Linked DNA regions of Homo sapiens. The protein of the gene in region 4 interacts with the protein of the main gene of each other region in a pairwise test. Each region holds a gene or a part of one and is shown on either strand. Other genes may lie near its edges.

Region 1 (7,534 bases), on a different chromosome or scaffold from region 4:
TGAAACCCCGTCTCTACTAAAAAATACAAAAAAATTAGCCGGGAGTGGTGGCGGGCGCCTGTAGTTCCAGCTGCTAGGGAGGCTGAGGCAGAAGAATGGCGTGAACCTGGGAGGCGGAGCTTGCAATGAGCCGAGATGGTGCCACTGCACTCTAGTCTGGGTGACAGAGCGAGACTCTGTCTCAGAAAAAAAAAAAGAAAGAAAGAAAGACAAAATATAGAGGAATGGTCTGATAAGATTTTTTATTTTTCTATTTTTTTTATTTTTGAGAAGGAGTCTCACTCTGTTGCCAGGCGGGAGTGGAGCGGCGCGATCTCGGCTCACTACATCCTCCGCCTCCCAGGTTCAAGCAATTCTCCTCCCTCAGCCTCCCGAGTAGCTGGGACTACAGGCGCGTGCCACCCACGCCCAGCTAATTTTTTTATTTTTAGTAGAGACGGGGTTTTACCATGTTGGCCGGGATGGTCTCGATCTCTTGACCTCGTGACCTGCCCGCCTCGGCCTCCCAAAGTGCTGGGATTACAGGCATGACCCCCACGCCCGGCCTTTTTGTTTTTATTTTTTTTTGAGACAGAGTTTCACTCTTGTTGCCTAGGCTGTAGTGCAATGGCACAGTCTCAGCTCACTGCAACCTCTGCCTTCCAGGTTCAAGCGATTCTCCTGACTCAGCCTCCCAAGTAGCCGTCACAACACCCAGCTAAATTTTGTATTTTTAGTAGAGATGGGGTTTCACTGTGTTGGCCAGGCTGGTCTCGAACTCTTGACCTCAGGTGATCCAACCACCTCGGCCTCCCAAAGTGCTAGAATTACAGGCCTGAGCCACCGTGCCCGGCCCCTTCTTTCTTTCCTTTCTTTCTTTTTTTCTTGTATTATTTCTTTTTTTAGATAGGTTCTCACTCTGTCAACCAAGTTGAAGTGCAGGGGTCTCATCTCAGCTTACTACAGCCTCCACCTCCCATGCTCAAGTGATCCTCCCACCTCAGCCTCCTGAGTAGTTGGGACTACAGGCACATGCCAATGCCACCATACCTGGCTAATTTTTTTATTTTTTTGTAGACAGGGGGACTCATTGTGTTGCCCAGGCTGGTCTCTAACTCCTAAGCTCAAGCAATTGCCCATCTCGGCCTCCCAAAGTGCTAGGATTATAGGCGTGAGCCACTGCACCCTGCCCCTTTTCAGAAAACTCTGCCAAGTCTCAGGATCACTCTTCCTCTTTAAAACCCTTCCTGGTGGCTGGGAGTGGTGGCTCACGCCTGTAATCCCAACACTTTGGGAGGCAGAAGCAGGTGGATCGCCTGAGGTCAGGAGTTCGAGACCAGGCTGGCCAACATGGTGAAACCCTGTCTCTACTAAAAATACAAAAAATTAGCCAGGCATGGTGGCACACGCCTGTAAGGCTGAGGCAGGAGAATTGCTTGAACCCGGGAGGCGGGGCTTGCAGTAAGCCAAGATGGTGCCATTGCACTCCAGCCTGGGCAACAGAGGAGACTCTGTCTCACAAAAAAAAAAAAAAAAAAAAAAAAAAAATTAGCCGGTTGTTGTGGCGTGTGCCTGTAGTCCCAGCTACTCAGGATGCTGAGGCAGGAGAATTGCGTGAACCCGGGAGGCGGAGATTGCAGTGAACTGAGATTGCCACTACACTCCAGCCTGAGCGACAGTGCAAGACTCCGTCTCAAAAACAAAAACAAAAACAAAACAAAACCGTTTGTGGCAAATGAACCTTTTATCTCAGGTTATCAGGCCATAATCTAGTCCCCGCCCTCGACAATTACATTTTATACCATTCTCTACCTTGCCCACTACATTCCAACTATTACTAGTCTTTCTCGGTTTCTTGAATGCTCTGTTTTCCCATGTGAGACATTTCACATACGCTATTTCCTTTGCCTGAAAAGTTCTCCCTTCACCTGCAGACTACTGGTCCTCATTCCTCAAGTCTTGGCCTTAAATCTCACTTCTGGCCTGTCGCGGTGGCTCACGCCTGTAATTCCAGCACTTAGGGAGGCCGGCGCGGGCGGATCACCTGAGGTCAGGAATTTGAGACCAGCCTGGCCAACATGGCGAAACCCCATCTGTACTAAAAACACAAAAAATATTAGCTGGGCATGGTGGCGCGTGCCTGTAGTCCCAGCTACTCGGGAGGCTGAGGCAGGAGAAGCGCTTGAACCAGGGAGGCAGAGGTTGCAGTGAGCTGAGATAGTGCCACTGCACTCGAGATCGCGCCACTGCGACAGAGTGAGACTGCCTCAAAAAAAAAAAAAAAAAAAAAAAATCCAAAAAATTTAGCCGGGCATGGTGGCGCACGCCTGTAATCCTAGCTACTCGGGAGGCTGAGGCACAACGATTGCTTGAACCCAGGAGGTGGTGGTTGCAGTGTGCCAAGATCGTGCCACTGAACTCCAGCCGGGGTGACAGAGGGAGACTCTGTCTTAAAAATCAATCAAGCAAGCAAGCAATCTCCCTTCTCAGAGAATTCTTCCTTGACCATCTCATATAAGTATTCTCACTGGTAATGTACTCTATCCTCACAACCTGCTAATAACACTTCATAACTGCTATAACTTCTTACTTCATAATGTTTTGTTTATTGTATAACTTTCCCACAGTCAGTAAGTTCCAAGAGGGAAAAGACCACGCCCGTTCCGGTTCTAACTATATACCCAGCGGCCAAAGCCTGACATACATAGCTGGCACTCAGTATTTGTTGAACGAATGAATAAAGAAGCTAACATAACTCAGTGGGCGGAGCAATGGGCCTGTCAGGGGCGTGGCCTCCGTAGAGGCGGAGTCTCCCCGGGGGACTGGGACCGGAAGCTTGGGCGGGGCTTCCCAGAGTGGCGCTCACGCCTTGGGGCGGGATTAGGCGGGCGGCGACTTCGCGGGCGGAATTGGGGCTTATTTTCCCTATCCCCTAGCAGTTTCCTCCCCCAGAGCCCTGGCTCACCCGAAGGCACCTCTCCCCACCACTCGGATCCGCTCGTACTTCTCCATCTCATTTCTTAGAGTTTCACTTCCGTCCCCCACGCGGCGCGTGCGCGGACCCACCCACTCTGGGCCCCGCCCCTTCACGGCGAGCGGCTTGCGGGGCGGAGCCAGCGCCCTAGGTGTGGGTTCCGCCACGCGTCCGTATTTGTGGGCCTGCACCACACACCTCCCGCTGCGACACGCCGTCACTTTTCCCCTCACGACCCTGCCCCACGCAGTGTCCAAGAATAGGGCAAGAAAATAGGGCGCGCCCGCAATGGCGGGCACGGTACCCGCCCCTCCCACACATATACCCAGCCCTTGTAAAGCTTGCTAGACTAAAAGGATGTCGCGTTCCCGAGAGTTAAACCCCACAGGCCGGGAAGGGGTGGGAAGAGAAGATTGACCCCCTTCTTGCCCACGAGTGACGCTATTTCAGGAGAAAGCGGGTTCTCCTTGGCACGCAAACGATAAACACACCCAAAACGACCGAGACCAGCGCTCCTGGGAGAAGGCAGCAGGGTTGGTTTCGTGTTTGCCTGGGGAGGGACGGGGGAAATCCCAAGTCGTGCAAGTTGATTCACCTGAAGAGGACATGACACGGTCTCGGGCCGTCCCGACTAGTGAGCGCCGCGCTCGTCAGCACTCTCAACTCCCCTTTCACACACGCGCTGCAGGAGGGTAATCTGCCCTCAGTGCTCATCTTCCCATGGGGGAAGATGGGGGCGGTAGTGGGTCAGTACCTGAAAGCATCAAGGGGAGAAGGAAAGACCGCGGTTTCGCCGAAATGAGCTCAAGGCAAAAGCCTAGAGGCAGGGGGCTGGTTAGTGTGACCAGCTAGGCTCTTTACCGGAAGTGAGGTTAATTCCAGGTTCTCCCGGGCTCCTGCTCTGCGGGAGCTCTAGAAAAACTCAGTATTCGGCCAGGCGCGGTGGCTCACGCCTGTAATTCCAGCACTTTGGGGAGGCCGAGGCGGGCGGATCACCTGAGGTCAGGAGTTTGAGACCAACCTGGCCAACATGGTAAAACCTCGTCTCTACTAAAAATACAAAAATTAGTTGGGCACGGTGGCGCGCGCTTGTAATCCCAGCTACTCGGGAGGCTGAGGCAGGAGAATCGCTTGAATCTGGGAGGCGGAGGTTGCAGTGAGCCGAGATCGTGCCATTGCACTCCAGCCTGGGCGATAGAGTGAGCCTCCATCTCAAAAAAAAAAAAAGAAAGAAAGAAAACATCAGTATTCAGGAGGAGGATGGTCACTAGCTGAAGGTTAGCGTCCCTGTATCAGAGTGGGCAAGGGGTGTGAGGAAAGGGGCGTTTTATCTTCTGCCCCTGTCCTGGCTCTCGCAAGGGTATCCAAACCCACCCACGTGGAATGACTGCTGGAAGGGCGCTGGCTCAGGCCGGTGTCGGCCGGCGGACAGAGCAGCTCTGTGAGCCAAGGGGAGGGGCGGGAAAGCCGCTCACCCAGGACACCCGTGTTCTCACCTAGAAACCGACTGGGCTTTGGTTGACTTAAGAGTCCCACAGGGGTTAATGTGTAACCTTGGAGCCATAGGGGAGGAAAACACTCAAACGGCTTGGTCCCTGGGTCCTTGCGCCTCAGGTTTTCTCGGCTTCTTCCTCCCGCCCGCAGCACCTTTCCCCTCCCCCGCTTCTTCCCGCCCCTCCTCTATTACTACCCTCTTCTCCCTCCCCGCTCTCATCTCCGCTTAACTTCCCTCGCTGGCTCTCAGCTGCTCCTCCTTTCGCCCAGAGTTTATACCTAAACTCTCCCCGAAAGCAGCTGCCTCGCTCGGAGGCGGGAGGGGGAGCCCGCGCCACAGTGAGGGCAGGCTGACACCTAGTGGCTAGGAGCCGCAACTGCTGCAAGCTACCGGCTTGGAGAGCGCGGGTCACTCCAGCTGTCCCGGCAAATCGGAGGTCTTGCTTGCCCAGCCTCCGGGGAGCCGGGCCGAGGGCCGGGACTGTCTGAGGGAGGACTGTGACAGCCGCCCGGCCCCAGGAGTTTAAGAGCCGGCGGGAAGAGGTGGCGATGGGTTACTCAGCAGTTCCCAAGTGCCCACCTCGCGGGCGCGGGAGGGACAGGTAAACACGGGACTCCGGCCAGAAGACTGCGAGTGGTGCGGTAGGGGCACTGGGTCTGCACGGAGACCACTGTCGGACGCGGGGCTCCGGAGCCCACCCCAGGACCAGGACTTAGGGGGCGTGGGCGTGTCGGGTCCCGTCCAGCTCTGCGCAGAAAGTAGAGGGCGGAGAGAGCTCTCGCGGTACCCGCCCAGGGCGGGGTAGCCGGTGGCCCGGGGAAAAGTGGGGACGCGGGTTAATGAGGCCAGGCGAGCGAGGGCAGCGGGGACTCCGTCGGCAGTCGGGAGGCGCCAGCGAGGGGTGTCTCGGCGACGACGCCCCCAGCACAGCTCCTAGTTACCCGAAGTCCGCGGGAGCCGGCCGGTGGCCGAGAGGCCACGGGGACACCCGGCTCGCGCGGCAGCAGCGCCTGAGGGGCGGGGGCAGGCGGACGGGGCGGGGGCAGGCGGGCGGGGCGGGGGCGCGGGCGGCTGGGGGCGGGGGCAGAGGCCTCGCAGGGAGGGCGAGGAGGAGCCAAGGGGCCTAGAGGGCTTCGCCAACTGTGTGGGGCTGGCGGCCGGCGGGAGAGGCGGCCGGCCTGGACTGGCCCGAGAGGGATCCCGGTTCCCAGAACAGACCTAGGAGGCGGCCTCGAGGGCGGACGGCAGGGAGGGCCAGCATGCCCCGACTGCTGCACCCCGCCCTGCCGCTGCTCCTGGGCGCCACGCTGACCTTCCGGGCGCTCCGGCGCGCGCTCTGTCGCCTGCCCCTACCCGTGCACGTGCGCGCCGACCCCCTGCGCACCTGGCGCTGGCACAACCTGCTCGTCTCCTTCGCTCACTCCATTGTGTCGGGGATCTGGGCACTGCTGTGGTGAGTGAGCGACTGTGGAAATGAGGTGGCCAGGGGATCCTGAGCGGGGAGCCGGGGCCGGCTCTTGTGTTACTACCCCCATCGCTCACTGGCGGGCTGAGGCCACGCAGTCTCACCTGATCCCGTTTGGTATCCTATCCAACCAAAAGCCGCAGTGGCCCCAGGGGAGGGGGATCGCCCCTGGGAAACTGGAGGCTCTTGGGTTTTGCCCAGCCACTCTTAGCTTCCCAGTCAGCCACTAGCGCGAGCCCAGGATCCCCCGGGGCTGCGAAGGGTAACCGAGAAGTTGATGGTCCTTGAGGGTGCCGAAATGCAGAGCCTCCTCTTCCCTCCTTTCCAGTGTATGGCAGACTCCTGACATGTTAGTGGAGATTGAGACGGCGTGGTCACTTTCTGGCTATTTGCTCGTTTGCTTCTCTGCGGGTAGGTCTTGCCCAGGAAGCGGGAGGCAAATTGGGGACAGGGAGAAGGAAGCTGCTTGTTCAGTTCATGATCTCTTGCCCCATCCCTCCACTAGGGTATTTCATCCACGATACGGTGGACATCGTGGCTAGCGGACAGACGCGAGCCTCTTGGGAATACCTTGTCCATCACGTCATGGTAAGAGAGAAGCAGACTATGTGGTATAGGCCTGGTGTCAGTAATCTAGTCTCAGCTCCGTCTTTCTGAATCTGGGAGAAGGCCGTGTTTTCTTACCACCCACCCCCGACCTGTGTGCTACTTCTTATGCTAGGATGCTGGAGGTTGGCAGTCTGTACTTGTTCACTGAGGCCAGCAACCCATGGTTTCACTGCCTCTTTAGACTGAACATCACCCACAGCCAGCTGTGAGCAGCAATCAAAATCTAGTAATGTTGAACTAACAAAACAAAGCATCTTACCCACTATAAACTATTATTCCAGGGGGAAATTTGGGATTTTCCAGCCCTCAATCTGATAGCCACACCCCCCAAACTTCCAGGAAAGCGTCTGCATCTGGGTTCCCTAACTCCTATTCTTTCTTCCCTCTAGGCCATGGGTGCCTTCTTCTCCGGCATCTTTTGGAGCAGCTTTGTCGGTGGGGGTGTCTTAACACTACTGGTGGAAGTCAGCAACATCTTCCTCACCATTCGCATGATGATGAAAATCAGTAATGCCCAGGATCATCTCCTCTACCGGGTTAACAAGTATGTGAACCTGGTCATGTACTTTCTCTTCCGCCTGGCCCCTCAGGCCTACCTCACCCATTTCTTCTTGCGTTATGTGAACCAGAGGACCCTGGGCACCTTCCTGCTGGGTATCCTGCTCATGCTGGACGTGATGATCATAATCTACTTTTCCCGCCTCCTCCGCTCTGACTTCTGCCCTGAGCATGTCCCCAAGAAGCAACACAAAGACAAGTTCTTGACTGAGTGAGGGGCACAGAGCCTGGGACAACAAAAACGGACAAGGCCAGAAACAGCTTCATATGGACACTGGGACTTAGCCCCAAGCCTGGGTGTCCTCTGAGGCCAGCCTCTCCACCTTCTGAGCCTGCGCCCACACTATTGAAAACACTAATGAAAGTACTCCTCTGAAGTCCTTGTCCTTTATTGGGCAAGGGGTGAGGGAAGCAGACAGACCGGTTGGACATAGTAGATGGGTGTGTGAGGACA
Region 2 (4,245 bases), on a different chromosome or scaffold from region 4:
GAATGGGGTGAGTGGGGTGAGTCCACAGAACAGTGGGGTGCAGCCCCAGGGGTCTCGTAGCACCTGCCCCCATGTCAGGAAGTCCCACAGCCTAGAGGCTCCAGCCTCAGATGCATACATATGTAGGCCCTGCCCTTTCCTCCTGAGCGGCGGGCCACAGAGTCCTGAACAACAGGAAGCCCCTGAGGAGGGCTCCGCCCTGAGGGAGGGCAGGGGAGCCCCCGCCAGCCCCACCCACAGCAGCGGGCCCTGCCACCCCCCACCCTGACACCTCACCCCTTGGATTCCAGAGAGGAAAGTGGGCTTGTGTGTAGTTTACATGCTCATATCTTAAAATCACTGTTGTCAATAGAACAATTCATAATCATGATGATAAAATAAGATTTATAACCAGCTTCAGTCTGGAGATACACACAGAGCAGATCTTCACTCCCAGACAGGGAGCCCGCAGCTGCCCCCGACCCCACAGGTGCAGGACACACACAGACAGTTCAACCATGTCTTAAACACACAGGTGTTTATTTAATTGTTCATTTGATTGAATTTTTAAGTTCACTTTACTACGTGGATGAGATGGGTGCATATTACAGTAGGCTTTCGCTATGAGCGCTGCCACCATGAGGAATATCCCAGCCCTCAGTTCTGCTTCCCTTTCTGAGTCCCACAAAAGCCAGATGTGGACAGCCTTGGGTTCCCATCCCAGCTGGCTGCTCCTTCTGGGGCTGTCTTGGTGGGGAGAGGGAGATGGGGCAGTGGGTCCCTGCTGACCCCTGAGCCCTGCAGGGGTCAGGATCCTCCCGTGGTCCCTGGGTGTGACTCTGGAAGACACTGGCAGTGCCCGGCCAAGGCCTCCCGCAGGATGGAAGTTGAGGGCCCTGGCTCTGGGTCCTAAGAGAACTCAGCCGCCCCCTTCACACTTTACAGCAAGGGGCCAGGCAGCAGCTTTGGGATGGGGCTTCCGTGGAGAAGTGGGGGATGCTGCAGTGGTACAAAGACAGCCTCCCCCACCGCCATCCTCCAGCTGACCGTCCTCCAAGGCCAGCACTGGGCGTCCAAGGGAAAGAAGGAACTCAGCCCAGAGGGTGTGGGCAGGAGAGGCCTGGAGTCAGGCCTCCACCCACAGCCCCCTCTGGGTGCCAAGTGGGAAGGGTGTTGGGGCTGGCTTGGGAACCTTACCCGCTGCCCTTCCAACACCTGGATCTGTGGGCAGCGGTCCCACAAAATCCCCCTTGGGGCTCCCTGAGGAGGACTTGTGGCTGCCGCTTCCACCAGGGCAGAGGGCACAGGAGGGGCCAGCACTCCAAAGGGCTCTAGGGTGGGTCTTTCAAGGACATCTGCAAAGCCCTGGTGGGGAGGGGCCTGGGCCAGAGGCTCTTTGGAACTCTTGCACTTCTGAGTGGGGGACTGTCCATGCTGCCCACAACCTCTAGACCATGCAGCCTGCTCATGGGTCCCTGGCAGAGAATGCCCACTCCCCAGCAGACTCAGGGCAGGCCCCCAACTGCAGGCTTCCAGGAAGGCCCAGGGTGTCCACCTCACGCCAGGTGGTCTCAGAGGACCCCTGTGCAACCACATTAAGGAAAGCTGCAGCCCCCACCCACCCGCCTGCCAGTTCAACAAGCACCGGCTGCACACGCAGGCTCCCAGGCACCATCACCCCCCTCCCCCGTCGCCCCTCCCTCATGGGGAGCCCCTTCCCCCTGGAAAGACAGCAGGTACTGTAGCCTCGCCTGCTGGCCAGGGGCGCCGGCTCAGAGGACCTGCCCTGACCTGCACGTGCTGACCAGACAGCCCAGCGTAAGGACCCGTGATCCCACGCCACCGCCCTGGGTTTACCACGGTCACCGCCACCTCTCTCACAGGGCCCCCGGGGGACCCAGCCGCGCCCGGCCTGGTGTCTGCACCGAGGGACCGCGTCTCACGCCCGGCGGCTCCTGCAGGGGAAGCCGTGGTCAGCGACTCACCACGAGGACAGGGCAGGGCGGCTGAGTGCGGAAGAGAAGCATGAAGCTGGGGGCGGGGGTGGGGGAGGAGGAACAAAAGTTGCATCTAGACAGAGGTGAACGAAACAAAACCAAAACCCGAACGTGTTCTGTCGCAGGATGGGCGCCGCCCGTCCCGGGCCCTTAGCCCGACATCTCTTCTCGCTGCTCCTTGTTCCTGCGCACCTCGGCCGCGTGCAGCTCCTGCAGGACAGGGGGCGGGAGGGCCTGAGGGCGGGGGTGGCTTGGGGCGACTCCGGGAACCCCCAGGCGCGCAGGCCGTGGCGCCCTGGCACCCGCCCGGCCTCATCCGGGCTGGCCTTCGGCAGGACCCTGACTGAGTTGAGGGGGCGGGAGCACCGGGGAGGCGCAGAGCAAGGCCAGGGACCAAGGACGGGTTTCCTGGGAGCTGGCTGGGCCCCGCTTCTAGCTCGTACCGGAGCCGAGCTTCCTTCAGGGCACTTTCAATATAATGAATTTAGCCATCTATTACTGCGGCTAGTTACTGTCCCGCCAGGACCAGACTCTGGACCTGCCTCGTGCGCTGCTGGGGACGCCCAGTAAACACGGGAGGAGCCCCCGACCCCCACCCCAGCTCAGCGCCTCGGAGTCCCCGGCCCCGCTCTGCGCCCCTCCGAGCTCCGCCCTAGCCCCGCCCCCGCCCAGTGCCCCGCCCCCTGCCTGCTGCTAGCCCTGCCCCCGCCCCGGCCCCTGCCCGCTCCGAGCTCCGCCCCGGCCCCGCCCCGGCCCCTGCCCGCTCCGAGCTCCGCCCTGGCCCCGCCCCCGCCCAGTGCCCCGCCCCCTGACTGCTGCTAGCCCTGCCCCCGCCCCGGCCCCTGCCCGCTCCGAGCTTCGCCCCGGCCCCGCCCCGGCCCCTGCCCGCTCCGAGCTCCGCCCCGGCCCCGCCCCCGCACCTTCTCGCGCAGCCGCTCGCGCAGTGCGGCCAGGTGTGCCTCGCGGATCTCCTTGCTGAGCTCCATCTTGTAGTTGAGCTTCTCCTCCGCCTGGCGGCTGAAGTTGTTATTCTCCTCCAGCGCCTTGTGCAGCACCTCGCGCTCGTGCTCGCGCCGCTCCGCCAGCTGCTTCAGCACCTGCGCCTCCTGCGTCTGTGCGGGGCCGGCGGGCGCGCGTGAGCGGCAACCCCGGGCCCTGCCCGGCCGGACTCCTCCCTGCTCTCCGCCTCCCGCCCAGCGCCCGCTCGCCTCACCTGGCGCCTCCACCTGCCCAGGCCTCGGTGGGCGCCGGGACCCCCGGGCGCTGCCCTGGGAACCCTCGCCTGCCATCCGGCCTGTGGTCGGGGCAGGGCCAGGGGGTCGCGATCCGCCGCCCCCGCCCCCGTCCCTGCCTCGCGCGCGGGTCCCGCGGTCCTGGCTGCGCCCAGGGCCCCCGCCATACCCTGCCGCCACTGCACACCCTGCCCTGCGCGTCTGCCCCTCCAAGGACCAGCAGCAAGAAACCCTAAACTTGTGGGCGGTCTCTGAGCTTTGTCTCTTCCTCGGACATCCGCCCACTGAGCAGAGTAGCTGCTTGTTACACACCGGGTTCCCAGCTCCCAATTAGGTGCCCAGGAGCGGAGGGTCCCCAGGGATGCTGGGGGAGGGGCCGGCTGGTGACCCCTGGGAGGAGAGCGGGGCAGCAGGACCCGCACCCACATGCCAGTCCCTACTAGTCAGCCCTGTGAACCCTGGTCTCTGGCCTCACCGGGAAGGGAACGGAGCCGCTTCCCCTGCCCAATGCGTTGGCCTCCAGGGTGGCACCCCCAAAAGGACATTTTTATCTCTGTTTCAGTCTCAGAGGGGCTGGTGGGAGGGGAGGCTGCAGGGAGGGGACCTGGAGCCCACACCCACCTCTCCCAGGGCCCCTCCGCCCTCCAGCAAGCCTCAGGGTCTTCACACATGAGGCCCTTCCTCCAGCTTCCCTGTCTGGGAGAGGGATGCCCCACCCGACGTCCCCAGGGCCCATCTGGGGACCACCCCCTAGCATCCTGCTGGCCCTGACAAGGGTGCCTCCCACCCTCACCAGAGGCTCCTGCTCCTTCCAGGTGGCCGCCTCGGAACCCTTCCTCCTCTCCATCCCTTTCTTTTTTTGTTCTTGTTTGTTTTTTGAAATGGAGTCTCACCCTGTCGCCCGGGCTGAGGAGTGCAGTGGCGCAGTCTCGGCTCACTGCATCCTCCACTTCTTGGGTTCAAGCAATTCCCCTGCCTCAGACTCCCTAGTAGGTGGGATTACAGGTGTGCACCACCACACCTGGCTAATTTTGTAT
Region 3 (7,269 bases), on a different chromosome or scaffold from region 4:
AAGGCACCCACAGGCTACTCTGGGGAGACTGATGTGTCAGCCCATTAGTGCAATAAGCAGGGAAGCTCTGTCCAGGGAAGAGTATGTCTGGGGGCCCAGAAGGGGTGGGTTAGGTAAGGCTTCAAGGTGATTCAGGCTCTGAACCATGAAAAGAGAGTTCAGAGTTTACCAAGTGGACTGGAAACAGAGTGTTCCAGGCTGAGAGTGGCAGGAGCTGGGACAAGGAAGTGTGGCACAGCTTCCTTGTGGAGAGAAAATTGGAAAAGTGCAAGACAGGCCCAGGGACCAGTTACAGTGGCTTGGTGAGAGAGAAGATGGCTGAGGCAGGACTGGTGGTGGTGAGATCAAGTGACAACACAGGAGGTAGAACTGATGAGCTCCCTAATTTGAGACCAGGTGCTGTATCTCACGCATGTAATCCCAGCACTTTGGGAGGCTTGAACCCAGGAGTTTGAGACCAGCCTAGGCAACATAGCAAGACCCTGTTTCTTCAAACACACACACACACACACACACACACACACACACACACACAAATTAGCCAGGTATGGTGGTGCACACCTGTGGTCCCAGCTACTTGGGAGGCTGAGGCAGGAGGATGGCTTGAGCATGGGAGTTCGAGGCTGCAGTGAGCTATGATCATGCCACTGCACTCCAGCCTGGGTGACAGAGGGAGACCCTGTTTCTAAAAAAGAAAAACAAAGATCTAATTTGGGACCATGAGTGGCACTCACTTGCCATGTCCTGTTAGCCTGGTCCCTGGATGCCTGTGTGAAGGGAGACAGCCTCATAAACCAGTCCACTGGCCTGGAACTCATGCCCTAGCAAGAAGTGCACTTCTGTTGTATTTGAGCCATTACATTTGGAATCTATTGGTCATTGCAGCAGAACTTACCTTCATTAATATAGCCTCTCCCTAGCTGGGAACACTATACCAAATCATGTGTTGGGGGAGAGAGGAAGAAACGAGGATATTCCTCTCTTCTTTGAAGCTTACAAATTTCGTTGGAACTACGTATGGAAAAGGAGAACATTTACCAGGCTCTTCAGATCTAAGAGTTGCCTGTTCTTCGAGTGGGCATACTGCCTCTGTTTCTCTGGGCTCCTGAGATGACCCAGTACCTTGGAGCTCCTCCAGCCCTGGGAGCCAGCAGAAAAGCCACCTGTTGTCTGTAAGGAAGTACCCACAGGCCTGGCTGAGCTCATTACAGCAGAGAGCCAGCAACGCTTCCTCCTCTTAGATTCCGTCATGTTAGACAATCTGCCTGCTCTCCCCACTAACCGTCAAAGTTCCATGGAATGAACTTGCCACTTTTTCAGGATCCTAACCACCGCACTTTCCTGCTACCTCTGGCACTTGGAATTTCAGAGACAAAACCCCTTTTTTAGGCAGCGAGCCCTGATTTTCAGTTCCAAAGCTATGGGCACTGCTGAGTGGGACCAGAGGAGTGGTGTGCAGTGAGCTACCTGGAGGGGTTGCATGAGACCATGTCCCCTCTCCTGGATGGAGGTGTCTTCTGGTTGCCAAGAAAGTATTGAGTGATAATCAGAAAAATTCCTTGATTTTCATGGTTTGTTGCTTTGTAGCAGGTCTTAAGGAAAAAAAAAAAGTTTTTCATGGTTTGGGACAGGTCCTTAGAGATGGGCCACACCAGCCCTGGCACACCTGAGCCCAGTGTTGGGCCACCTCACACCTCTCTCGCCTCTCTTCCAGCTTTATCTTTGTCCTGCTCTTTCTGGAGTCCTTTCCTTGCATCCTGCCAGCTGGCATCCCCTTCATCCTTGCACGCCTACCTTCTACACAAAGCCTTCCATGACCATCCCAAGCCTCAGGGCTGATTCCGTGCAGTGGGCAGGCTGTAGCCTCTCTGTTCACCTCTCTGTGTCACATCTTACTGGGTACATGCCCAGTAAATTCCCCACAACTGAGATTCTGCTTTGCCTGAGCAGTGCCCTCTGGCTCCTTAGGGATGATGCTTGCTGAGGGGTTTCCTGGCTTTAAGGTCATGGTTCAGGCTGGGCTCAGTGGCTCACACCTGTAATCCCAGCACTTTGGGAGGCCGAGGTGGGCAGATCACTTGAGGCCAGGAGTTTGAGACTAGCCTGGCCAACATGGTGAAACCCCGTTTCTACTATAGCCGGGTGTGGTGGCAGGTGCCTGTAATTCCAGCTGCTTGGGAGGCTGAGGCATGAGAATCGCTTGAGCCTGGAAGGTGGAGGCTTCAGTGAGCCGAGAGCATGCCACTGCACTCCAGCCTAAGCGACAGAGCCAGATTCGTCCCCCTACCCCCCAAAAAGGGGTCATGGTTCAGACCTCCATTGTAGGCCCACCCCCTTGCTTTACTAGCTGAGGGACCTTGCCTAAATTCTTTAGCCTCTAGGAGCCTAAATTTCCTTATCTGCAAAATGGAGATTAATAAAACTTACCTTGCAGGACCTTTGTGAAAAAAACAAAAACAAACAAAAAAACTTGAGAAGTCATTCAAAGCACTTAGTTCGTGATCAATAAATATTAGCTTATTGTTTTTCTAAGACGATGAGTAGGATTTTTCATCAAAAATAAATCATTCTGGTTGCCTTGGGCAAAATAATCTGCAATATAAAATATCTATAATAAATGGCTGCTGTGTATTCATTGCTACTGTGTGCCAGGCACCATGTTAAAACACTTTATAAAAATGATCTCATTGAGGCCTTTCCACAACTCTTTTTTTCTTTTTTTAGAGATGGAGTTTCGCTCTTGTTGCCCAGGCTGGAGTGCAATGGCATGACCTCCGCTCACTGCAACCTCTGCCTTCCTGGTTCAAGTGAATCTCCTGCCTCAGCCTCCTGAGTAGTTGGGACTACAGGCATGTGCCACCATGCCAGGCTAATTTTTTGTAGAGACAGTGTTTTACCATGTTTGCCAGGCTGGTCTCGAACTCCTGACCTCAGGTGATCCACCCACCTCGGCCTCCCAAAGTGCTCGGATTACAGACGTGAGCCACCGTGCCTGGCCCTTATCCACAACTCTTAAAGTAGGTGCTAATATTTGCAGTAAGTAGATGGAGATGGCTTATCTTTCGCTGAGTTAGCTTGGTCTGATTTGAGCTGGCAATACACTGCCTTCCAGGTCATTGTCCTGCCTGTGGGTCTTTGCACATCCAGACCACACTTCCTTCCTCTTTACCTAAATCTACCTCTTTCTCATCCTTGGAGAGAAGTATTTGCACCCTTCCTTTGCCCTCAGTCTTTCTTTTTTATTTTTTCATTTCATTTCATTTATTATTATTATTATTATTATTTTTTTTTTGAGACAGAATCTCACAGTCACCTAGGCTGGAGTGCAGTGGAATGATCATGGTTCACTGTAGCCTCAAACTCCTGGGCTCAAGCAATCCTCCCACCTCAGCTTCCCGAGAAGCTGGGACTACAGGTGTGCACCAACAAGCCCGGCTAATTTTTGTAGGTCTCGCTATGTTGCCCAGGCTGGTCTCCAACTCCTGGGCTCAAACGATCCTCCCGCCTTGGCCTCCCTAAGTGCTGGGACTGTAGGCATGAGCCACCGTGCCTGGCCATGCCCAATCTTTCTTACTGCAGTTGGTGATACATGGTTTTTGTTTTCTCTATACATGTATTTTTTGGTGGTGTGTTTAATATCTGTCTTTTCCCAGACTGTCGCCTCCGTGAAAGCAGGAACCTTGTCAGTTTTCTCTCCAAGTTATCCCTCCAACGCCTAGCACAGTGCCTGGCAAATGTAGGAGCTCAACAGGGTTTGCGGAATTATTATGTGTATGTCTGAAGGAAGGATGTTGGCAGTGCGCCCAACGTGTGAGGGGAACCCCACTCTCCAAGGTTCCAGTGGCTTTAAAGGTGTCCTCGAGAAAATCAGAGGAACAGGGGGATGCTTGTTTTCCTTCCTTCCTTCTCTCTCTCTCTCTCTCTCTCTCTCTCTCTCTCTCTCTCTCTCTCTCTCTCTCTCTCTTTTTTGCTTTAAAGTATGCTGAAAGGACACTTTAAACCAAGTCTGAATGGCTCGGCAGGACTGGGGCGCGGGTGCTGGCAGGAGCCGGAGAGGCGACATCTGGCCATGGGAGCATTTGTTTCAAAGTTCAAGGCCGTTCGCTCAGGGTCAAGGTTAGTCCGGCGGGCCGTTCGGAGACCAGCCCCAGCGTGCCAGGACCGTTTCCGGGGCCTGGCCGGGGCGTTGCCGCGGGGTCGGGGACCAGCACGAGTGCTGAGTCACGCCCCGCCCGGGAGCGCCTCGGGTCAGTAACTCGGGAAGACGACCAAGCGGGAGCGGGAGCGGGAGCGGGAGCCGGAGCGAGAGCGCGCGGGCGCGGCCGACAGGTGAGATCGCGCCGCCAGGCGGGCTCTCGAGACCCCGGGCGCCCCGGGCGGGACCGGGACCCGGAAGAGGGGCGAGCGGATTAGAGGCCTGGCTCACGCCGCGTCTGGCGTGGGGAGGTCGGTGCGCGCAGTTGTGGCGCTGCGAGGAGAGGGATACTCGACTCAGGCCCGCCCCTCTCTGTCTCCCCCAAAAAACGCAACAGGGAGATGTGCTCCTGGCCGAGGGCAAAGAAAACTCCACCCTCCTGGTTTGGCCCCTAAATCCCTGCTAAGTTTTCCTAAGGAAGATGGGCTTAGGCCGGGAAGGGCGAACCGGGGAAGAGGGAACACGGGGCGGGTGTAACCCGGATCTTGCGAGGACCGTCCGAGGGTCCGCTGGGTAGAAGCGGCCGGTCCGGACAGAAGCAGGTGTGAGAGGAAAGGGAGAAACCTCAGTCTCTAAGAGGAAAGAAACTGGAGTCAACCCAGTGCCCATAGGCTCGGGGGAGCTGGGGGGTGCAGCACTAGGAAGTCTGCTTCTCCCTTCCCGAAGCCCTGGGTGCTGCAGGGACAAAGACCAGCGGTGAGTAAACTAACTCTGATGGGACGCGTGCAGTCCACCTGGAACTGAATTAGTGGCCTATATTGGGGCTCTCCTTCCAACACCACCTGATCAACACACCCTACCTTTCCCTACAAGGAGAGTCTTTTTGACCCTGGAATTTAAGGTGAGGATGGGGAGTGGTGAGGTCTCTTGGGGGCTGATGATCCTGTAGGAGGACAGGCATAGGGCAGAGAGTCAGATATAGTTTGGGATGGGACTTGCAGGTTTCTGGACTGTGCACCTGTGTTCAAAAGCCTGTATCAGGTTCCAGTGTGCGTGCATGCACCTGCCAGAGAGCCCCGGGATCTCAGATCACACCTGCCCTCACCCCAGCACCTAGAGAGGAGTTCTCCAAGGAGCACAGTGTGTCACCAAGAAGAGGGCACTGAGCCCCAGCCAGGGTGGGCTGGGCAGGCTTAGCACTACCTAGCCCAGAAGTGATGGGCTGGGCAGGCCGGTGGACTCCAGGGCCAGCCTGACTTTTGTCTGGTGGCCAAATGAAGCCAGCGTCCAGGTACAGGTGGTGGGCAGACCATGGGGACCACAAAACTGGCTCTGAGGAGGATGGACAAATTGCTTGGCCTAGGTTTTCTGTGCGGGAGTGAATATGACATCCAGATGAACCTGTCTGCCCCAGAGCTGCCCTCCCCTGGGGATAAAAGGAGGCTGCCTCCCTTAGACTTTGAGTCCCTTTTCAGAAACTGGTCTTTTGGGGGTTCTGTTCTTCAAGTAGTCCCTGAGGGGCTGGCCATGGAGTGTCCCAGGAAGGGAGGCCGCCCAACCGTCTCCATCCTGCTGTGTCCCGCAGGTGGAGGAAACCTCCATGGTGCTGTGAGTCGTGCTGTAGTGGCCTTCTTATCCGGGACGGCCACTCTGGGAATGTGGCTCTCCAGAGGCTGATGTTGAAACCTACCCTTTGTGTGAGCCATGACGACTCAAAAAGCATCGTGTTTTATTTGTAATATTTGTGAAGCAATACTGGAGCAACTCTGGGATGACATTCTTGCTTTGATCAGAGCCCACACGGTTCCTGCTGTGTGTCTTCTGAGGCACAACCTCTGAACAGCTTTGGCATAAATGTAACTTCCTGGTTTTTCAGTAGTCCTATGGGCTGCTTATTGTGGAATAATACCCTTGAGATCAGGGTGGATGCTCTTGGCAGAGAAAACAGGATTGACTGAGCAAATTTTTGTGTAAATCAGATTGTGTGTGTGTGTGTCTGTGTGTATGTGTGTTGTGGCAGGGAGCAAAGGTAAAGTTACTGAGGGGTTCCTGGACAATCAGGGTTTGTTCCGCTCTCTTAGGCCTTCTTTTAAGCTAACATTCTTGAACCTAGACAGACATAGTTAAGATTCTCTGTGATTCCCACTGGGGCTTTGGTGTTCAGTTCAAAATCAGATGGTGGATTTAGCAGTTCCTCAAAAAGTTAAACTTCAAGTTACCATATGACCCAGCAATTCCATACCTAAATATATACTAAAGAGGACTGAAGACTGGTTCACACAAAAACCTGTACACAAATGTTCATAGTGGCGTTATTCACATAGTCAAAAGGTGGAAACAACCCAAGTGCCCGTCAGCTGATGAGTGGATAAACAAAATGTGGTCTATTCATACACCAGTAATGGACTGTTTTTCAGCCAGGAAAAGGAATGAAGCACTGATAACATGCTACAACTCGGATGAACCTTGAAAACATGATGATCAGTGGAAGACGTCGCAAACAAAAAGCCACATAGTGTATAATTCCATCTACATGAATTGTCTAGAACAGACAAATCTATAGAGACAGAAAGAACATTAGTAGCTACCCAGGGCTAGGGTAGGTGGGGTACAGGATTTATTTTGGGGGTGATGGAAGTGTTCTGGAATTAGATAGTTGTGATGGTTGCACAACCTGGTGAATACACTAAAACCCACTGAACTTACATCTTTTTTTGAAATTTAAATTAAAAAAAATTTTTTTTTGAGACAGAGTCTTGCTCTGGCGCCCAGGCTAGAGTGCAGTGGCATGATCATGCCTCACTGCAACCTCGACCTCCTAGGCTCAAGCGATCCTCCCACCTCAGCCTCCTGATATCAGGGACCACAGGCATGTGCCACCATGCCTGGCTAATTTTTGTATTTTTTGTAGAGATGGGGTTTCACCATATTGCCCAGGCTGGTCTGGAACTCCGGAGCTCAAGCAATCTGCCTGCATTGGCCTCCCAAAGTGTTGGGATTAGAGGTGTGAGTCAGCCTACATCTCATTTTTTTTTTTTAAAAGATGGGGTCTCATCTAGGCTGGAGTGCAGTGGTGCAATCATAGCTCACTGTGAACTTACATCTTAAGTGGTAAATTGTATATGTGAATTCTA
Region 4 (7,032 bases):
TTCTTTGCACACTTGAGTTTTAAACTAAGATTGATTTCTTTTTTTATATACAATTATTGGTTTATGCTATTATCTTTTAAAACTTTAGAAAAAAAAGAAGAGTTACAAACCAAAAATAGGTAGTTCTTTGATGAGTGCTTTTTTTATGTCTTTGTCTGGGTTCAAGTTATTGTCTAATGTCCCTTCATTTCAGCTTGAAGAAGTCCCTTTGTCATTTTTTGTAGGTAAGATCTACTAGAGATAAGCTCAGTTTTTGTCTGTCTGAGAATGTCTTAAATTCTTCTTCATATTGGAAAGATAGTTTGGCCAGATACAAAATTCTTTGTGGATTATTCAATTACTTTGAAGATGTCATCCCATTGCTCTCTGGCTTCCATGATTTCTGATGAAAAATTAGCTGTTAACTTATTGAGGCTCTCTTGTACATAAGTCACTTCACTCTTGCTACTTTTAAGATTATTTTTGGCTTTTAATAGTTTAATTATAACTTGGTGTGGCTCTCTGTTAACTTACATAGAGTTTGTTGAGCTTCTTTGATGTATAGCTTTATGCCTTTTGTCAAATTTCAAAAGTTTTAAACCATTATTTCCTTAAGCATTCTTTCTGTCCCCTTCTCTCCTCTCTTCTGGGACTCCAACTATGCATAACAGTCCCACAGGTTTCTGAGGCTCTGCTCATTTTTATTCATTCTTTTTTTTCCCTGATCTTCAGCATAATCTCAATTGACCTATTTTCAGTTTCATGAATTCTTTCTTTTGCCTGCTCAAATCTGATTTGAACACTTCTTGCGAATTTCTCATTTCAGTTATTATGCTTTTCAACACCATAATTTCTCTTTGGTTCCTTTTTATAACTTCTACATCTTTGCTGGTATTCACTATTTGGTGAGACATCAGTCTCATGGTTTCCTTATTTGCAAATTGTTTCCTTTAGCTATTTGAGAATATTTAAAATAATTGATATAAAATCTTTGTCTAGTGAGTCCAATGTCTGAGCTTCCTCAGGAATAGTTTCTATTAATTTCCTTTTCTCCTGTCCATGGGCCATATGTTCTTATTTATTTATACTTGTTGAATATCCGATACTTTGACAAGTATAATGTGAAATCTCTGGAAATCAGAATCTTCCACCTTCTCTGGGGTTTTTTGTTACTTCTTGTTGTAGTTGTTTTGTTTAGTTAGTGACTTTTCTAAACAAATTTTGTAAAGTCTGTATTCTTCGTCACATGTAGCTACTGAATTCTGTCCCATGAACTTAGTAGTCATCTAATAGTTCAACAGAGATTTCCTTAAATGCCTAGAATCAACCCAAATCAAACAACAACAACAACAAAAACCTCCCAGTCTTTGTAAATGGGCTTCGTATATGTTGAGCATGCCTTCAACACACAGTTTACAACTTCCTTAGTCCTCAGTTCCTGCTTACACAGATCCTAAAAGTCACTCCGAGAAGAAAACTTGGGGTCTTTCTCAGGTTTTTTTTTTTTTTTTAGTATGCACTCAGTCCTGGGCATGCAGTTGGCCTTCTAGATTACCAGGAATATGTGGGTACTTTTCAAAGGGTATTCCCCAAAATAACTCTTTCCCCAGCCTTTCTTTCTCAGCTTTTTGGTTACTCTATTGTTTGCCCCAACTATTATGCCTTTCCCCAGGTGGCAGCAATAAAAACATTTGCTTTTAAATGTTTCCAAACTATACCTCCAGGGTAGCCATCTCATCTGTGAAAAAGTTCTGAGTTAAACAAACTAATGGCAAGCCTTTTATGTAATACTTCATGGAAGCACCAGACAGGTCAAAGCCACAGTTCTTTGGGAATAAGGTCCATGCTGCTCCCACTTGTACTATGTACCTGTAGTTGGAATGTCAGCTGTCTTTAAAACCACCACCAAGATGGGAAATGAGGAAAACCTGAGTAAGTTAAAGTGTTAAAAAGTTATTTTACAGAGATTCAAGGTTTTATTTAATTATTATTAAATATTTCCCTGGTTGCTGTAAGCTTTTGATTAGTTTCAAGTTTTAAAAAACTCGATCTTCAAAATTTTTGCCAGTTTTTGTGGAGGGATGGACTTTGGGACTTCTCTACTCCACCATTTTTTTTATTATTATTATACTTTAAGTTTTAGGGTACATGTGCACAATGTGCAGGTTAGTTACATATGTATACATGTGCCATGTTGGTGTGCTGCACCCATTAACTCATCATTTAGCATTAGGTATATCTCCTAATGCTATCCCTCCCCCCTCCCCCCACCCCACAACAGTCCCCAGAGTGTGATGTTCCCCTTCCTGTGTCCATGTGTTCTCAGTGTTCAATTCCCACCTATGAGTGAGAACATGCAGTGTTTGGTTTTTTGTCCTTGCAATAGTTTACTGAGAATGATGATTTCCAATTTCATCCATGTCCCTAAAAAGGACATGAACTCATCATTTTTTATGGCTGCATAGTATTCCATGGTGTATATGTGCCACATTTTCGTAATCCAGTCTATCATTGTTGGACATTTGGGTTGGTTCCAAGTCTTTGTTATTGTGAATAGTGCCACAATAAACATACATGTGCATGTGTCTTTATAGCAGCATGATTTATAGTCCTTTGGGTATATACCCTGTAATGGGATTGCTGGGTCAAATGGTATTTCTAGTTCTAGATCCCTGAGGAATCACCACACTGACTTCCACAATGGTTGAACTAGTTTACAGTCCCACCAACAGTGTAAAAGTGTTCCTATTTATCCACATCCTCTGTAGCACCTGTTGTTTCCTGACTTTTCAATGATGCCATTCTAACTGGTGTGAGATGGTATCTCATTGTGGTTTTGATTTGCATTTCTCTGATGGCCAGTGATGGTGAGAATTTTTTCATGTGATTTTGGCTGCATAAATGTCTTCTGAGAAGTGTCTGTTCATGTCCTTTGCCCACTTTTTGATGGGGTTGTTTTTTTCTTGTAAATTTGTTTGAGTTCATTGTAGATTCTGGATATTAGCCCTTTGTCAGATGAGTAGGTTGCGAAAATTTTCTCCCATTTTGTAGATTGCCTGTTCACTCTGATGGTAGTTTCTTTTGCTGTGCAGAAGCTCTTTAGTTTAATTAGATCGCATTTGTCAATTTTGGCTTTTGTTGCCCTTGCTTTTGGTGTTTTAGACATGAAGTCCTTGCCCATGCCTATGTCCTGAATGGTAATGCCTAGGTTTTCTTCTAGGGTTTTTATGGTTTTAGGTCTAATGTTTAAGTCTTTAATCAGTCTTGAATTAATTTTTGTATAAGGTGTAGGGAAGGGATCCAGTTCCAGCTTTCTACATATGGCTAGCCAGTTTTCCCAGCACCATTTATGAAATAGGGAATCCTTTCCCCATTGCTTGTTTTTCTCAGGTTTCCAAAGGTTAGATAGTTGTAGATATGCGGCATTATTTCTGAGGGCTCTGTTCTGTTCCATTGATCTCTATCTCTGTTTTGGTACCAGTACCATGCTGTTTTGGTTACTGTAGCCTTGTAGTATAGTTTGAAGTCAGGTAGCATGATGCCTCTAGCTTTGTTCTTTTGGCTTAGGATTGACTTGGCGATGCGGGCTCTTTTTTGGTTCCATATGAACTTTAAAGTAGTTTTTTCCAATTCTGTGAAGAAAGTCATTGGTAGCTTGATGGGGATGGCATTGAATCTATAAATTACCTTGGGCAGTATGGCCATTTTCACGATACTGATTCTTCCTATCCATGAGCGTGGAATGTTCTTCCATTTGTTTGTGTCCTCTTTTATTTCATTGAGCAGTGGTTTGTAGTTCTCCTTGAAGAGGTCATTCACGTCCCTTGTAAGTTGGATTCCTAGGTATTTTATTCTCTTTGAAGCAATTGTGAATGGGAGTTCACTCATGATTTGGCTCTCTGTTTGTTATTGGTGTATAAGAATGCTTGTGATTTTTGTACATTGATTTTGTGTCCTGAGACTTTGCTGAAGTTGCTTATCAGCTTAAGGAGATTTTAGGCTGAGACAATGGGGTTTTCTAGATATACAATCATGTCATCTGCAAACAGGGACAATTTGACTTCCTCTTTTCCTAATTGAATACCCTTTATTTCCTTCTCCTGCCTAATTGCCCTAGCCAGAACTTTCAACACTATGTTGAATAGGAGTGGTGAGAGAGGGCATCCCTGTCTTGTGCCAGTTTTCAAAGGGAATGCTTCCAGTTTTTGCCCATTCAGTATGATATTGGCTGTGGGTTTGTCATAGATAGCTCTTATTATTTTGAGATACATCCCATCAATACCTAATTTATTGAGAGTTTTTAGCATGAAGCGTTGTTGAATTTTGTCAAAGGCCTTTTCTGCATCTATTGAGATAATCATGTGGTTTTTGTCTTTGGTTCTGTTTATATGCTGGATTACATTTATTGATTTGCGTATATTGAACCAGCCTTGCATCCCAGGGATGAAGCCCACTTGATCATGGTGGATAAGCTTTTTGATGTGCTGCTGGATTCAGTTTGCCAGTATTTTATTGAGGATTTTTGCATCAATGTTCATCAAGGATATTGGTCTAAAATTCTCTCTTTTGGTTGTGTCTCTGCCCGGCTTTGGTATAAGGATAATGCTGGCCTCATAAAATGAGTTAGGGAGGATTCCCTCTTTTTCTGTTGATTGGAATAGCTTCAGAAGGAATGGTACCAGTTCCTCCTTGTACCTCTGGTAGAATTCGGCTGTGAATCCATCTGGTCCTGGACTCTTTTTGGTTGGTAAGCTATTGATTATTGCCACAATTTCGGAGCCTGTTATTGGTCTATTCAGAGATTCAACTTCTTCCTGGTTTAGTCTTGGGAGGGTGTATGTGTCGAAGAATTTATCCATTTCTTCTAGATTTTCTAGTTTATTTGCATAGAGGTGTTTGTAGTATTCTCTGATGGTAGTTTGTATTTCTGTGGGATCAGTGGTGATATCCCCTTTATCATTCTTTATTGCTTCTATTTGATTCTTCTCTCTTTTCTTCTTTATTAGTCTTGCTAGCAGTCTATCAATTTTGTTGATCCTTTCAAAAAACCAGCTCCTGGATTCATTAACTTTTTGAAGGGTTTATTGTGTCTCTTTTTCCTTCAGTTCTGCTCTGATTTTAGTTATTTCTTGCCTTCTGCTAGCTTTTGAATGTGTTTGCTCTTGCTTTTCTAGTTCTTTTAATTGTGATGTTAGGGTGTCAATTTCGGATCTTTCCTGCTTTCTCTTGTGGGCATTTAGTGCTATAAATTTCCCTCTACACACTGCTTTGAATGTGTCCCAGAGATTCTGGTATGTTGTGTCTTTGTTCTCATTGGTTTCAAAGAACATCTTTATTTCTGCCTTCATTTTGTTAGGTACCCAGTAGTCATTCAGGAGCAGGTTGTTCAGTTTCCATGTAGTTGAGCGGTTTTGAGTGAGTTTCTTAATCCTGAGTTCTAGTTTGATTGCACTGTGGTCTGAGAGACAGTTTGTTATAATTTCTGTTCTTTTACATTTGCTGAGGAGAGCTTTACTTCCAACTATGTGGTCAATTTTGGAATAGGTGTGGTGTGGTGCTGAAAAAAATGTATATTCTGTTGATTTAGGGTGGAGAGTTCTGTAGATGTCTATTAGGTCCGCTTGGTGCAGAGCTGAGTTCAATTCCTGGGTATCCTTGTTAACTTTCTGTCTCGTTGATCTGCCTAATGTTGGCAGTGGGGTGTTAAAATCTCCCATTATTATTGTGTGGGAGTCTAAGTCTCTTTGTAGGTCACTCAGGACTTGCTTTATGAATCTGGGTGCTCCTGTATTGGGTGCATATATATTTAGGATAGTTAGCTCTTCTTGTTGAATTGATCCCTTTACCATTATGTAATGGCCTTCTTTGTCTCTTTTGATCTTTGTTGGTTTAAAGTCTGTTTTATCAGAGACTAGGATTGCAACCCCTGCCTTTTTTTGTTTTCCATTGGCTTGGTAGATCTTCCTCCATCCTTTCATTTTGAGCCTATGTGTGTCTCTGCATGTGAGATGGGTTTCCTGAATACAGCAAGCTCCATCAGCTCCTTTAAGCACTTCTCTGTATTGGTTATTCTAGTTATACATTCATCTAAATTCTTTTCAAAGTTTTTAACTTCTTTGCCTTTGGTTTGAATTTCCTCCTGTAGCTCGGAGTAGTTGGATCATCTGAAGCCTTCTTCTCTCAACTTGTCAAAGTCATTCTCCATCCAGCTTTGTTTTGTTGCTGGTGAGGAACTGCGTTCCTTTGGAGGAAGAGAGGCGCTCTGCTTTTTAGAGTTTCCAGTTTTCCTGCTCTGTTTTTTCCCCATCTTTGCGGTTTTATCTACTTTTGGTCTTTGACGATGGTGATGTACAGATGGGTTTTTGGTATGGATGTCCTTTCTGTTTGTTAGTTTTCCTTCTAACAGACAGGACCCTCAGCTGCAGGTCTATTGGAGTTTGCTAGAGGTCCACTCCAGACCCTGTTTGCCTGGGTATCAGCAGCGGTGGCTGCAGAACAGTGGATTTTCGTGAACCGCGAATGCTGCTGTCGATCATTCCTCTGGAAGTTTTGTCTCAGAGGAGTACCCGGCCATGTGAGGTGTCAGTCTGCCCCTACTTGGGGGTGCCTCCCAGTTAGGCTGCTAGGGGGTCAGGGGTCAGGGACCCACTTGAGGAGGCAGTCTGCCCATTCTCAGATCTCCAGCTGCGTGCTGGGAGAACCACTGCTCTCTTCAAAGCTGTCAGACAGGGACATTTAAGTCTGCAGAGGTTACTGATGTCTTTTTGTTTGTCTGTGCCCTGCCCCCAGAGGTGGAGCCTACAGAGGCAGGCAGGCCTCCTTGAGCTGTGGTGGGCTCCACCCAGTTCGAGCTTCCCGGCTGCTTTGTTTACCTAAGCAAGCCTGGGCAATGGTGGGCGCCCCTCCCACAGCCTCGCTGCCGCCTTGCAGTTTGATCTCAGACTGCTGTGCTAGCAATCAGCGAGACTCCATGGGCGTAGGGCCCTCCGAGCCAGGTGCAGGATATAATCTCCTGGTGCACCGTTCTTTAAGCCCGTCGGAAAAGCACAGTAT

Evidence for each region.
Region 1: the proteins of TRIM69 (region 4) and NEK8 interact in binary tests that used the Homo sapiens proteins (3 or more experiments, as listed by UniProt).
Region 2: the proteins of TRIM69 (region 4) and STMN3 interact in binary tests that used the Homo sapiens proteins (3 or more experiments, as listed by UniProt).
Region 3: the proteins of TRIM69 (region 4) and AIFM2 interact in binary tests that used the Homo sapiens proteins (3 or more experiments, as listed by UniProt).

What each region holds. Positions count from the first base shown.
Region 1 is NC_000017.11:28,724,271-28,731,804, reverse strand, and holds the start of NEK8 (serine/threonine-protein kinase Nek8), read right to left. Parts: upstream 3,018-7,534; 5' UTR 2,992-3,017; coding exon 2,945-2,991; intron 1-2,944. Other genes in the region: TLCD1 (TLC domain-containing protein 1 isoform 1 precursor), read left to right, coding at 5,708-5,901, 6,242-6,324, 6,419-6,501, 6,912-7,295. UniProt on the Homo sapiens protein: Required for renal tubular integrity. May regulate local cytoskeletal structure in kidney tubule epithelial cells. May regulate ciliary biogenesis through targeting of proteins to the cilia.
Region 2 is NC_000020.11:63,639,212-63,643,456, forward strand, and holds the end of STMN3 (stathmin-3), read right to left. Parts: intron 3,089-4,245; coding exon 2,897-3,088; intron 2,187-2,896; coding exon 2,127-2,186; 3' UTR 501-2,126; downstream 1-500. UniProt on the Homo sapiens protein: Exhibits microtubule-destabilizing activity, which is antagonized by STAT3.
Region 3 is NC_000010.11:70,129,794-70,137,062, reverse strand, and holds the start of AIFM2 (ferroptosis suppressor protein 1), read left to right. Parts: upstream 1-4,237; 5' UTR 4,238-4,329; intron 4,330-7,269. UniProt on the Homo sapiens protein: A NAD(P)H-dependent oxidoreductase that acts as a key inhibitor of ferroptosis.
Region 4 is NC_000015.10:44,739,528-44,746,559, reverse strand, and holds part of TRIM69 (E3 ubiquitin-protein ligase TRIM69), read right to left. Parts: intron 1-7,032.